Regions from separate parts of the Homo sapiens genome. Here region 1 is reported to be linked to region 2. Evidence: microRNA targets listed by miRTarBase, many of them from high-throughput screens and not tested one by one. Region 2 holds a microRNA gene; the other region holds the end of a gene's coding sequence.

Region 1 (7,003 bases), not on the chromosome of region 2:
CCAGCTGGATGGTATGTACCGTGACTGGGCTCTGCCAAAAAATAGTAGGAACTCACTCCCTGTTCCTAATAGCTGCCAGGAGTACAGACCAGAGGTTGCAATCTAAGGTCTGCCTTCCAAGGCCCCTGCAGGCCAAAAGAGAGGTGAACTGCTCTAGGTTGATGCCCTATACATTGGCTTCTTCTCCAGAAACAAGTCATCGATGGGCACAGCCAGACACTGCCCCACTACCTGTCCCGGCAAACATTCGCTTCTCCATCTGGATCTCATTCTTTGAGATCTACAACGAACTGCTTTATGACCTATTAGAACCGCCTAGCCAACAGCGCAAGAGGCAGACTTTGCGGCTATGCGAGGATCAAAATGGCAATCCCTATGTGAAAGGTAAAGGAACATGGGGAAAGCTGGCATGAACCCTGGAGGGCAACTGGGGAGAGACTGGCAAAAGAGTTGGATGTTCCCATCTTACACCCCTCTCCTTTGGCCCCAGATCTCAACTGGATTCATGTGCAAGATGCTGAGGAGGCCTGGAAGCTCCTAAAAGTGGGTCGTAAGAACCAGAGCTTTGCCAGCACCCACCTCAACCAGAACTCCAGCCGCAGGTGAGTAGATTGTAAGAATAAACTCTTCACTGTGTTCCAGGAAACATTAGTCCTCTGCCTGGTCATGGAAAATGTGCAATGACTTTTTGTTTTTCTTAACTTCCAGTCACAGCATCTTCTCAATCAGGATCCTACACCTTCAGGGGGAAGGAGATATAGTCCCCAAGATCAGCGAGTAAGTTTATCCATTTAGAAATTTGGGCTTCTTGGCCATAAATGATAGTTGGGAAAGCATGGAGGAGGTCCTCAGGGGAACTATGTGTTCTCCTTCTTTGGGTACAGAGATTCTTAGTGGGCCGTCCCCTCTCCAGAATTATACAAAGGGCCAGAAGGCTCATAACATGTGAGGCCCTTATGTCAGATCCTGTGCATCATTCTAGGCTGTCACTCTGTGATCTGGCTGGCTCAGAGCGCTGCAAAGATCAGAAGAGTGGTGAACGGTTGAAGGAAGCAGGAAACATTAACACCTCTCTACACACCCTGGGCCGCTGTATTGCTGCCCTTCGTCAAAACCAGCAGAACCGGTGAGCTTTTGACTATAATTCCTGGGCTCTGCAATTTGCTAAGAGACTTCCTGGACACCACTGGGGATGGTGCTAGGATACCCAAAGGGCTGGTGTTCTGCTCACAGCTCTATTATCTCTGATTCTCTGCCAGGTCAAAGCAGAACCTGGTTCCCTTCCGTGACAGCAAGTTGACTCGAGTGTTCCAAGGTTTCTTCACAGGCCGAGGCCGTTCCTGCATGATTGTCAATGTGAATCCCTGTGCATCTACCTATGATGAAACTCTTCATGTGGCCAAGTTCTCAGCCATTGCTAGCCAGGTGAGAAGCTAGAGGTGTGATGGGTGTGCGCACTTGGAACTGGTAACTCTAAGAAAGCTCCTAGGGACTACTTATGGAGTCAAGTAAGATATTTTTTTTCCCTCTAGCTTGTGCATGCCCCACCTATGCAACTGGGATTCCCATCCCTGCACTCGTTCATCAAGGAACATAGTCTTCAGGTATCCCCCAGCTTAGAGAAAGGGGCTAAGGCAGACACAGGCCTTGATGATGATATTGAAAATGAAGCTGACATCTCCATGTATGGCAAAGAGGTGAGAATACAAGAAAGCTTTAGTGTAGCAGCTTAGTAGCTACACATTTTTCCATGGTGCCTTCCAGGTGGGCTTGTGCCTTCTGAGGGCATGAGCATCTGATGACCTCTGACATGTGTGTCTCTCCTAGGAGCTCCTACAAGTTGTGGAAGCCATGAAGACACTGCTTTTGAAGGAACGACAGGAAAAGCTACAGCTGGAGATGCATCTCCGAGATGAAATTTGCAATGAGATGGTAGAACAGATGCAACAGCGGGAACAGTGGTGCAGGTACTAGCTGAGTGACCCCTCTTGCTCTGTCACCTGAGACAGAGGGTGGGAAGTAAGGAGTTAGGTGGAGTTGTGCCTCAAGATCTGTTCCCCAAGTTCACTCCTCAGAACCTTCACTTACCTCTCTTTTCTCCTCTGTTTCTGACAGTGAACATTTGGACACCCAAAAGGAACTATTGGAGGAAATGTATGAAGAAAAACTAAATATCCTCAAGGAGTCACTGACAAGTTTTTACCAAGAAGAGATTCAGGTGAGTTGCCCTGAGCCAGCTCCAATTAGCTGCTCAGATTTCCATCACTAGCTTGCCTGAAGTAAAGAGATTTTATAAACTACTCCAGTAAGGGCAGGAATATATAACTCCCTTTTCTCTATTCCCCATAGTGCTTTGGGTTCAATCTATGTTTGGTGAATTGATTAAGGGTTTAGTTGGCCAGGAAATCGTATTAAGTGCTAACAACAGGTTTTCAAGGGATCAGTGTCACAAGTGCTTTGTTTGTTCAGTCATCTGTCTTAGCAATATTTTTCTGGCTCTGCAAAGAATTGTGCTCTCTGCTTCCCTCTTAGGAGCGGGATGAAAAGATTGAAGAGCTAGAAGCTCTCTTGCAGGAAGCCAGACAACAGTCAGTGGCCCATCAGCAATCAGGGTCTGAATTGGCCCTACGGCGGTCACAAAGGTTGGCAGCTTCTGCCTCCACCCAGCAGCTTCAGGAGGTTAAAGCTAAATTACAGCAGTGCAAAGCAGAGCTAAACTCTACCACTGAAGGTGAGGAAAGAGACAGGCAGGAAACATAACAGTGGTTCAGGGAAGAGCTGTTACTTAAACCCAGGCCTTCTAACTCCTGCTCTAACATAATTTCCTAAACTGCAAGCTACATCCCCCTGACATTTCAATCTAGGATACACATAGCCTCACTTTTTATATTTGCTGCAAGCTACTGTTACCTCAGTTAAAGAGGTTAGTCCAAGGCTAAAAAAACCCCACATATTTTAAGTTTCCTGTTTCCTTCCCTCAGAGTTGCATAAGTATCAGAAAATGTTAGAACCACCACCCTCAGCCAAGCCCTTCACCATTGATGTGGACAAGAAGTTAGAAGAGGGCCAGAAGGTAATTACCACCATTCTCTGTTTACCAAACTCTTACCTAAGGCAATTTCCCACATCCAACACTCTATCACTGGTTCATGTGAAGACAAGATGTTTTTTGTGCACAGTTCTGGAGAGTGGCTATTTCACTCAGCTGACTAGCCTTTCTAATTTTACTTCTCTTCAAATGGCTACCTGACCCCTCCAGATCATTATCCTGGTTGCTCTTGGCCACAATATGATTCCTACTTCCCCTTTTTCAGAATATAAGGCTGTTGCGGACAGAGCTTCAGAAACTTGGTGAGTCTCTCCAATCAGCAGAGAGAGCTTGTTGCCACAGCACTGGGGCAGGAAAACTTCGTCAAGCCTTGACCACTTGTGATGACATCTTAATCAAACAGGTTAGGGCAAACTATATACCCACTTCTGTCCTACCAGCCCACTCCAGTGTATATGTGAGAAAGGAAAGAGGACCAGAAGAAAAAGGTAAAGATTTTTAGGCTGAATTTATAGTGAGAGCAGTATATTTGCAAAATAAAAATAACTATTCTTTGTTAAGCATTTACTAAGTACCAGGCACTGTGCTAAGTAATTTATAGGCATTTTCTGTCACAACCACCTTAGGGAGGTAGTTACTGTCATATTTCATCTAAGATGCTACTGATTATAAGAAACCATTATTTTATGTACTACTAAGAAAAAAGTAACAATTTCTCATCAGTAAGATGCATCCTGATTCCAAAGAGATTAAAATGTTAAAATTGTGTATCTTAAACTAAACTCAACATTTAATTTGACATTTAGAGACTGAGGCACTTAGAAATTAAATTTACTCAAGCTCATACTACCTTATGTGTTAGAAGATGTCCTATTCAGCACTGCTTATGTTTTGTTCTCAGAAAATGTCCCCTTATTCAGTTATAAGCTCCGACCTTAAAGAGTTTTAATCTTTGAAGAAACAGTTGTTAGTAACTAGTAATGGATGGTATGTATTACCCTTAGCCCTCTCGTTTCTCTAATATACCAGACAAAAGTGTTTTCTATAACTTTATTGATCTTCCTTAGGACCAGACTCTGGCTGAACTGCAGAACAACATGGTGCTAGTGAAACTGGACCTTCGGAAGAAGGCAGCATGTATTGCTGAGCAGTATCATACTGTGTTGAAACTCCAAGGCCAGGTTTCTGCCAAAAAGCGCCTTGGTACCAACCAGGAAAATCAGCAACCAAACCAACAACCACCAGGGAAGAAACCATTCCTTCGAAATTTACTTCCCCGAACACCAACCTGCCAAAGCTCAACAGACTGCAGCCCTTATGCCCGGATCCTACGCTCACGGCGTTCCCCTTTACTCAAATCTGGGCCTTTTGGCAAAAAGTACTAAGGCTGTGGGGAAAGAGAAGAGCAGTCATGGCCCTGAGGTGGGTCAGCTACTCTCCTGAAGAAATAGGTCTCTTTTATGCTTTACCATATATCAGGAATTATATCCAGGATGCAATACTCAGACACTAGCTTTTTTCTCACTTTTGTATTATAACCACCTATGTAATCTCATGTTGTTGTTTTTTTTTATTTACTTATATGATTTCTATGCACACAAAAACAGTTATATTAAAGATATTATTGTTCACATTTTTTATTGAATTCCAAATGTAGCAAAATCATTAAAACAAATTATAAAAGGGACAGAAAAATTAAGAATCAAACATCATTCTGGACCATGGGAACCTTGAAAAGGCATGGCAGTGGAGACCAGTAACTAGTATACAGCTTGCCTGAGAAGGCTTAGTAACAAATGAATTCAAGTCGTATTAGATATTCTAAACCTTCCTTAATATAAGATGAAGTGTCATATGTTAGGAGGTAAAAACGTAACACAAAATTCTGGGAATAAGAATAAAGTCTGGACCCTGAGCTCAGAATGATCCATAGCATCTACTGTGCAAATATATTACAGCAGACATTATAGCATATTACCTCCTGCTGTACACACATGCACAGGCCTGAAACTCTCCAAGAGCACCATAAGAATGATTCCCTTTACCTCATCTAGATAAAGGCTGAAAAAAATGTATTCTGTTGCAGATGGGAGGGAAAAAAATAGACAATTACGTTGAAAATTTATTAAAACAGACCAGCTTGAAGTGAGTTTATTCTTGTCTGTATAATCACCAATGTTATTTCCAAATGTCCGTGAAATTATCTATAATCCTATCTCCTTGCTTGCTTTGGTAGGAGTATAGCTAACAATATAGCCATCTTTTGCCCTCAGTAAGGGCTATCAGCAGTTCCAAGCTCTGTGAGATTATTTTTGCCCTTCTTTTATTCAACTCTAGTTGAATAAAGTTACTTCCAATTTGAAAGCTTTAGAAGACCCCCCCAAAACTGTTTTGGAAGATTGTCTCCCTAGAGAGTAAGAACAAATGGATAGCTCTATTCCATTTAAACCTAATCTCTGACATCAGAATAGGGATCATGCTCAGCAAATCCAAGAGCAAGGTCATTTGTATCCATTGCTCTGACTTCTTCCTAGGGTACTCAGTGCCCTACTGCCAGCTCAGGGTAGAGTGGCAGACTTTCCTCCTTTCTTTCACTCTCAGCAGCATTGAAACTTTGTTCCTGTAGCATTGCCTGTGCTAAAGTGCTATAAAAGGGACTTTCTTGGGGGCCAAAAAAAAAAAGCATTCAGGGAAGAAGGCCAAGATCTATAGCCACTCTTTGGACATAAGTGAGACAGAAGTACTTCTAACTGGCAAGATAATGTCTGTTCCTGCCAGGATTCTGTCAGTTGGCCTCTGAAGGTAATTATACAAGCTGTCCCTATGGAGCTGTTGCCATCTGTAGAAACAAGAAGAGCTGAGGTCCTTGGAACAGACGTGCTGTTCTTTACATGGAGGTAAGGCTTAATTAAGATGGGTCTAACAATGTGCTGGCTTGAGAGTAGCCAACTATGGCGTGACAGAAGACAAGTTGAGTGGAGAAACTCTGCGTGTGGGGGTATTGTTAGCAGAGAGTGAAGCAGGTAGGAAAAAGGGAGCAGGCACCTCGGTGGTAGGAGTCTCGCCTTGGTTCCGAAGCTGTAGGATTTGCCGGAGTAAGGCCTTACCTTCTTCCCGGGTCTGCAACAAAGTCAGGGAAATGTTTCAAAACATGTCCAAAGCTAGTCTCGAAAACAAGTTATTAAGATGCTGTTAAACAAGTTCCACAGATCAAGGAGGCGGGAGGCTTGCTTGTTTTTTTTTTTTGAGATGGAGTCTCACTGTGTCACCCAGGCTACAGTGCAGTGGTGTGATCAAGGCTCACTGCAGCCTCGACCTCACTGCAGAGGATCAAGTGATCCTCTCACCTCAGCCTCCTGAGTAGCTGGGACCACAGGCATGCACCACCAAACCTGGCAAAATTTAATTTTTGTAGAGACAAGCTCTCCCTTTTTTGTCCAGGCTGGTCTTGAACTCCTGGACACAAGCGATCCTCCTGCCTCAGCCTCCCAAAGTGTTGGGATTATAGGTGTGAGCCGCTTGCCTGGCCAAGGTAGGCTTTCCACTTAAATATCTTATGTTCTAGCCTAAAATTCAAACCTTTTATTAAAGAACTGATACTCACATCATTAAATGCACAACACTTTTGTGCACAAGTTGAAGCTTCATCCCACAGTTTGCACTTAAAATAGTACTGGGCCAGATAGCGAAAGGCAGTGCTTTCCTCCAAGTGTTCTACTATTTCCTAGAAAGGGAAAGCAAAATTACTGAGGTGACAGTAATAATATCAGCAGTACAATTCTCATGGTATGATACATACCCCACAGGAATAGATATCTTGGATATATTTGATGTAACACTGGGCAGCCTGTTCTGACTCAGTCAACTGTTCATGAAGCCTACAAAAGAAACTGATCTTTAAATACCAATGATATCCCAAAGCAACTTAGTGATAAAAAAAGTAAAAGTACATAA
Region 2 (7,586 bases):
TGTCGCCAAGTGTGTGCCCATGGCATGGGAGCTGTGTGTGCGGCTGGGTCCTATCTGCTGTGTGTGCGGCTGGTTCCCATCTGCTGTGTGTGCGGCTGGTTCCTATCTGCCTTTATCTGCTGTATTCTGTTCTGGCCCGTTTCCCCACCTCTGCCCCTTTCTGGGTTTTCTTATAATCCAGATGAAATGTCCGCAGCAATAACTGAGAGCCGGTTATGAACCCTCTGGGCAGAGTCGCCTAGGGGCCCTGAATGCTTTTCTTTGGGCTTAATGCAAACAGAAGGGACACAGGATCCTCTGCTGGGTGATGCTTAGCAGCCGGATTATGACTCAGCAGCATTGCAAACACAGGGAAAGACTCAGCATCTCCCGAGGCATTTTATGGCTCTTCCCTCCCAACACAATGTTCCTATTGATACGCTGAGATCATATAAGGGCCAGGCTGCTCTAATAAACAATCGCCTACCTTGCAGAGCACCTCCCAACTTTCCCGTATATCACCCTTTACATTTTTTCCAGGACTCAGTCCCATGCGTTTCTGCGGCACGTGACTTCCCCTATGTCATAGGTGACTGCCGTCCTGGACTTCCTTTCCACATGGTTTCTCTGCTCTGCCCTAATCTGGCCTCATCTCAGGCCAGACCAGCGCCATTTCCTGGCCCTGGCTCCTGGCTGCCTCCAGGCTGCTGAGCTCACCATGCTGGGAGGATGGAGGGCCCTGAGGCCACCAGGGGCTCAGCTGACACTTACCAACAGCCGTCCACCCCACCTCCCACTGCATCCTTCCTAGAGCAGCTGGAGCATCCAATGATAGGGGCCCAGCCTCCTAGGTCAACACAGGCACTGCCTGAAGCAGCCCCCAAGGTGGTCAGGGTGCCTCACGGGGTGGGCTCTGCCAGGCCAAGGGGCAGCTCCCTGATGCTCTGCCGAGGGCCACTTTCTTTCTTTCTTTTTTTTTTTTGAAATGAAATCTTGCCCTGTTGTCCAGGCTGGAGTGCAATGGTGTGATCTCGGCTCACTGCAACCTCCACCTCCTGGGTTCAAATGATTCTCCTGCCTCAGCTTCCCGAGTAGCTGGGATTACAGGCATGCACCACCATGCCCGGCTAATTTTTGTATTTTTAGTAAAGACAGGGTTTCACCATGTTGGTCAGGCTGGTCTCAAACTCCTGGACCTCAGGTGATCCGCCCGCCTCGGCCTCCCAAAGTGCTGGGATTCCAGGCATGAGCATGTGTTGTTTCTTTAGCTGGATGCATGAATGTGCCATTGGGAGCTGCTGTCCATCCTCAGGGACAAACGTGAGGGGAAAGGCATACATGTAGACATATGTACAATCTCTTCTCATTTTAAAAAAGTCACAGCACTTGCAAAAGAATCACTTCTCATCTGTGGCAGGACAAGATTTTTGACATTTGCTTCTGATCCTGTCCTGGGCCTGAGTGCGAGGAGCTCCTCAGACAGAGCCACCTCCCTCACCTGTCCTCAGGCCACGTGGAGGTGAACTTCCAGGCACAAGCACCCCACACCTGGCTGGGGCTGCTCTTCTGGAGTGGCAGGGCCATGCTGAGAAGGACTGACAGGTGACAGTCAAGGCAGCCCTGCCATCACCTTCCTGCACATTCCGGGGTGCAACTCAGCCTCTGTGGTCTGGACTGACATACTTCTTGGGATGCACTTTGGCTCTTCGCAGGATAAATGCATTTGTTTCTTAATAAATACATCTTTAAAGCTGGTCAACATTCGTTTTATCCTGCTACTTAATCTAAGGAGTCTAAGAAGCTGACAAAGGAAAAGGAAAATTTCACCATGGGGGTTGGGGGAAGGCACCATGATTGTAGGGTCTGGGCTTTTTTTTTTTTTTTTTTTTTTTTTTTGAGACGGAGTCTTACTCTGTCGTCCAGGCTGGAGTGCAGTGGTGCGATCTCGGCTCACTGCAACCTCTGCTTCCCAGTTCAAGCGATTCTCCTGCCTCAGCCTCCCAAGTAGCTGGGACTACAAGCACGTGCCACCACGCCCAGCTAATTTTTGTATTTTTAGTAGAGACGGGGTTTCTCCATGTTGGCCAGGATGATCTTGATCTCTTGACCTCGTTGTCCGCCCGCCTTGGCCTCCCAAAGTGCTGGGATTACAGGCGTGAGCCACTGCGCCAGGCAGGTCTAGACTTTTATTCTCTAGCCTCCGAGAAAGTAATTTTACAGCAAGACAGTTGCTGGAAGTCACTGGCACAGAGCTTGAGTGGCCATTATCCTTAAAACACCTGAAAGCCGGGCTAAGTAAACAGTGCCATCATTCAGTCTACCACTGACCCAGACCTCTGCCCCAAGGGCTTCCTGGGCTAAGTAACAGTGCCATCATTCAGTCTACCACTGACCCCAGACCTCTGCCCCAAGGGCTTCCTGCCCATCCACCAATTCTTCTTCTGGGTATGAGACCTCACCTGAAAGAGCAAGAGAACAGAGCTCGGGGAAGTTGAGGGGACAAACGTTCCCCACCAAAGCCACATAGAGAACCACTCTTTCTCCCTTTCTCCTACTTGTTCATCAACAAGTACTCTAACCACCTAGGCCAGGTGCAGAAGCACAGCACAGATGCCCTGCACTCCTGGCACTCTGTGCACACTCCTGCATGCCCTGCATTCCCTGCACTCCTTGCACACTCCCTGCAGCCCTGCACTTCCTGAATACCTTGCACACTGTGCACACTCCCTGCAGCCCTGCATTCCCCGTATACCCAGCAGGCCCTGCACGCTCTCTGTGCCCTGCACACTGCGCTTGTCTCTGAGGCAGTGAGAGGCAGCCACATGACAACACAGTGGGGTCTCCGCCCCGTGGAGGGACTGTGGCTTCTGTGAGCCTGGCAGAAGGGCGTGACCCGCACTTTGGGGTCAGGCAGGAGGAAGGGATGCTTCAGTGAGACCTGAATTGGGGCTGAAGTCAGCCTGACAAGAGATGGCCACTTGTGATTTAGAATATTACAGCATTCTAGATGAGGTATACCATATACATATGAGGTATATATATATCTCTCATCTAGAATGCCGAAATATTCTAGATGACGTTGCCAGTGAGGGAGGAAGAGGAAGATGGAACAACTTGTACTTCTCCCTCCTTCCATCCTCTTCTTCCTCACACTGAACTCCCAGGCTTAAAATAAGAGCTGGCTTCAGTGACTGACACCAAGGGGAGGGCACCTCTGGGTTGGACCCTGAGGGGTCTTTGTGCTCAGTAGAATCTTGGGGGGCCAGCTAGGCAACGCTGCTTGATGTAATGAGGTCCCTCAGGGTCGGCTGCCTACCTACTGTGAAAACAGTTATTTCTGGGGAGAGAGGGCTGTCCCCAGTGGAGAGCCTCAGAAATGAACTCAGCATTTGCAGGAAGTAAAAAGAAGTGGCCTATACCGGAAGCGTAGGTTTGGCCTGGCTGAACCGCAGGGGAGGATCCAGTCTGGACTGGGGGCATGAGATAGCTCTAGCCCACTCCTCAGAGGTCTCTCATTTTGAGTCCCCATTTCAGGGGGATGCTGAGAGCCTGAGAACCCCTGGTCTAGCTGACAAGCTCCTCTTCAGCCACAGAAAGAGGGGAGGAGGCCCAGGTAGGGGAGGTAGGTCCCTGGGTCCCCAGGCAGGTTGGCAGTGGAACTGGAGGAGTCCAGAGGCTTGGCCCCTCCCCCAGTAATGCAGCCACCTTTGACCCCGTGCTTCTTAAAGATAGCTGGGACTGCCCCCACCCTTCCCTAGCCCAGGTCTTGAAGTCCTTCCCATCCTTCCCACAGTTCCGATTTCGGCTTCTAGCCCATCCCACCCAAGGAAGCTCAGCACACTTGTCTGCGCCCCCTTTCTCTTACATCCTCCTCCTGTCTGCCACTCCCCATTGATTTCTCTTCCTGCCTCTTTCTCTCTCCGATTTTCTCCACCAGTGGGTGCAGGTTCTGCTCAGTCTTCCTGCCTGTCCTCTCCGGGGGCCCCCAGAACTAAGCTGAGCCTGCTCCAGCCCCATATTTTACCGCAGGAGGTTGGCTTCCTTCATGGCCAGGAGGAAGTGGTGAGGGGCAGCTGGCATGCCTGGTGGTCAGGGACAGGCAGGGTCTGAGACCCAGGCCAGGCCCCTCTCCCTGAGCAGGTTTCTCCAGATCCAAAAGAAAGAGCTGGCGAGATTGGAAAGGTCCTTTCTAGACCCTAAAGAACCCCTAATAACCCACAGGGCCAGTCTGTGCTCACGTGGCACAGTGGAAGAGAGGACACTATTTTTTTTTTTCTTCTGCTCGGGGGTCCAGTTTTTTCTTTTCTTTTTTTTTTTTTAGTTTTTTGATTTTTTTTTTTTTTTTGAGACAGGGTCTCACTATGTTGCCCAGGCTAGTTTCAAACTCCTGGGCTCAAGCAATCCTCCTGCCTCAGCCTCCCAAAGTGTTGGGATTACAGGCGTGCGCCACCACGCCCCAGCCTGGAGGCCCAGTTTCTGTTTCAGGAAGTGACCTCTGAGCCAAACCATTTACTCACCTCCTTCTCCATCTTTCTGCCCTACAGCCCACTTCCTCCAAATGCAAAAAGCTGACAGGACACTGTCCCTAAGTCACCCCATCACCCAGCCCTGGACAAGTCCGCCTGGCAGTTTTGAAAACTAGTCCCATGGGCATGCTTCTGAGTGCTGTGTCCTTCCCGTCTGACTGATGGCTCTCAGGCAGCACAGCCCTCCGAGGTGGTCAGGAGTGGCGGCTGCACTCCGCTGGGAATCTTGACACTGCTCCTTAGCCTCCCCTGTCAGAGGCTGGGCCTCAGAGGAGCCTTCCAGGTCTCCTGGGTGCTCTGCATCCGGCGTGGGGCGCCCACTCCCAGAGCTCCGAGAGTCAGGTTCGAGGCCTTGTGATATCCCCCTTACCTGGTGGTCACTCCATTGCCTGGGTCCTGGGGCGCCTCCCTTGGCTGGCGGGGGGTCCCCGTGGGGGCTGGGCGAGGCTCTTCCTGGCGTCCTCTTGGGAGCCACTCTCCTGGCTTGGCGATGATGGCTGCTGGGGAGGAGGAGAGAAAGTTCAGTCCACATCTGCTCTGGAGCCCCTCTAAGGATGCCCTCTCGTGGGCTGGGTTGGAAAGCCAAGAAAAGCACGCACCCCAGGCCAGGCCCTGCGGGCTCCCTGGCGCCTGTGGCTTGGGATACTTGTTTACTCGTGCAGCCCGGGAACTTGCCAGGTAGCGGGGGATGGCAGGCACACTGCTGGTGGTGACAGGCACAGCCCAGGGAGGTTCAGATCACCCTGGCCGCTCAGCCTTCCTGGCACCCCTCAGCCTCTGGAAAGCCCTCAGAACAACAAATTGTCTCCCTGGGCCATGGCTAGGCGCCCCCAGACAGAATGTGGAGGCCCATTTGCTTATCTGAAACTCAAATGTAACTGGGTGGTGTGTAGTTTTATTTGCTAAAACCAACAACCTGAGAGGTAGGGTGCTCCTCACCGAGCAGCCCAAGGCTCCTTAATGCTGAACCACTCGGTACACCCAGGGTGGCCAGGAAGTGCCCTAACTCCCAGTGACTTGTGCTGTAGCTGATGCCCACCCAGAACCAGGCCACCCGGGACACGCAGGAGCCCTTCACGGGGAAGCAGACGGAGAATCCCAGATAGCATCATAGCATACGGAGGGCTCCCCAAGGGCCTGGGAACAGATGTTCCTGCATCTCAGATGCCACGCACCCCTTCCCCCACCCCGCCTCTCCTCTTCTCCTACAGCTGAAGGGGTCCATGTCACTGCTGCAGCGACACTGTGACAGAGGCTGCATCCGTGACTCCCTTAGGCCAAGCTCCTCTCAGCTCTTTCATTTTAGCAGCTCCTCTGTGGCTTTGCAATGTGATCTGTTTAATCTTAAATATAAAGGGATCTTCCCTGCAGGTTTCCCTGTAGCAAGGGGCTTTGACTTCCAGATAATTCTCTTTTGACCCAAACGAGAATCTATTTCTGATACCAGAACCCAGCGGGTGGCACTGGGCGGTCTCCACCTGGATCTGGGTCTAGAAATAGAGCTTCAGGACAGGAGGCACATGCTCAGTGTGCTTAGAATAAGGCCAGGAGAAAAAGCGTAGGTGTACAAGAGAATACTTGAGTGAAGTCACACCGAATTGCTGGGCTACACGCAGGGGAACCCCATTACAACGTGTGGAGTCACAAAGCTGTGCCCACGCCAGGCAAGTCCTCTAGGACCAGGACCAGGAGCTTCCCAGGGGGTGTGAGCGTAGGGGACGGGGTGGTCATAAAAAAGGAGGAACTGAGCTGGAGTGTCCCAAGACCATGAGGTGGTCTTGGTTCAACTGTCCCCTTCTCCTCTCCTACTTCCTCCAGCACAGGCCACACTGAAGACTTTCAGAGGTCCCACCAAGAACAAGAGACCAGCTGAGCACGGTGGCTCACGCCTGTAATCCCACCACTTTGGGAGGCTGGGGCAGGCAGATCACTTGAGGCCAGGAGTTTGAGACCAGCCTGGCCAACATGGTAAAACCCTGTCTCTACTAAAAATACAAAAATTAGCCGGGTATGGTAACACATGCCTGTAATCCCAGCTACTCAGGAGGCTGAGGCAGGGGAATCACTTGAACCCCGGGAGGCGGAGTTTGCAGTGAGCCAAGATCGCACCACTGCACTCCAGCCTGGGTGAGAGAGCGAGACTCCATCTCAAAAAAAAAAAAAAAAAAAAACAGGAGACCCCCCTAACTAAGACAGCCAGGAGCTAGGAGATGGGGCAGCCATGGGTGTGCACCGGGGTCTTCCTGGGACAGTAGTATCTCTTGCCTGCTGGTCCATTTCAGACAGGGCTGGGCATTTTAACTCCCAGGGCTATGAAGTCCCAAGGCATGTGATTTTGATATTGAAGATAGTCCTGGTTGGTGGGGAAATGAGAATAGCTTTCCTTAGGCCAACGTTCTGCAAAATGCTAAGCCATATTATTGGCCTTTTCCCTTGGGAACTATTTCCTGTTGGCATTTGGGGCTGTCTTTTGCCTAGAATGTACTTTCTGGGCCTGCACTCAACCGATCAAGCAGTTTGAGGGTCCAACAGGTTCCTCCTCATGAGTTTTCCCTGCGGTGCTGACTGAACGCAAAGCGCAAAGGCTCTTCCTCAAGAAACTCAGCGTGAAGGTGGGGGTTTCCACGGGGTCTCTGGGTGGGGCGTTAGTTCCCAGCACAGGCCAGACTCAGCAGCGAGCTGTGTGCAAGGAGACCTGTGGGGAGCGCTGCCTGGGGCCAGGATGGGCCTGGGGCAAGGTGAGTGAGAGAAGGGAAGTGGAGGGGGCCCCATGCCTGTAATCCCAGCACTTTGGGAGGCCGAGGCGGGAGGATCGCTTGAGCCCAAGGGTTCAAGACCAGCCTGGGCAGCACAGAGAGACACCTCTCTCTACAATCAATCAATCAATCAATCAATCAATCAATTGAAGTGGAGGGGAGGGATGGAGAAGCAGGACTGTCTGGAGGAAGTCAGAGCAAGCTCCTGAGCAGGGAAGGAATGAAGCAGAAGGCAACATGGCTCAGGGGTGCCCATGCCCAGCCCAGCACTGCCCACTCCCTGCTGTCCCTGCTGCTCATCCCCCTCCCCCTCATTCATACCCTG

The links. The annotated mature microRNA hsa-miR-4777-5p reads UUCUAGAUGAGAGAUAUAUAUA and lies in region 2 at 3,015-3,036, opposite strand. An mRNA with a match to its seed (bases 2 to 7 or 8) in the 3' UTR can be bound and repressed. Matches are read on the target gene's strand: a 7mer-m8 pairs with bases 2 to 8, a 7mer-A1 pairs with bases 2 to 7 and ends in A, and an 8mer does both.
Region 1: miRTarBase lists CDC23 as a target of hsa-miR-4777-5p. Seed matches in the 3' UTR shown: 7mer-m8 at 5,099-5,105.

Annotation. Positions count from the first base shown.
Region 1 is chr5:138,182,980-138,189,982 of GRCh38, forward strand. CDC23 (cell division cycle 23) reads right to left here. Exons shown (of 16, transcript NM_004661.4): 14 at 6,849-6,927; 15 at 6,654-6,773; 16 at 4,671-6,169. The coding sequence ends at 5,999. KIF20A (kinesin family member 20A) reads left to right here. Exons shown (of 19, transcript NM_005733.3): 7 at 1-11; 8 at 190-384; 9 at 491-602; 10 at 709-777; 11 at 983-1,126; 12 at 1,260-1,425; 13 at 1,533-1,697; 14 at 1,828-1,967; 15 at 2,116-2,218; 16 at 2,533-2,731; 17 at 2,982-3,073; 18 at 3,315-3,452; 19 at 4,117-4,744. The coding sequence ends at 4,434. Among named protein-coding and RNA genes, the nearest start is that of KIF20A, 7.4 kb to the left of the region's middle.
Region 2 is chr2:231,358,173-231,365,758 of GRCh38, reverse strand. MIR4777 (microRNA 4777) reads right to left here and starts at 3,051; the gene lies at 2,966-3,051. It overlaps ARMC9 (armadillo repeat containing 9), which reads right to left. Exons shown (of 25, transcript NM_001352754.2): 23 at 4,876-5,005. RefSeq lists an enhancer at 4,447-5,090 and a silencer at 4,968-5,262.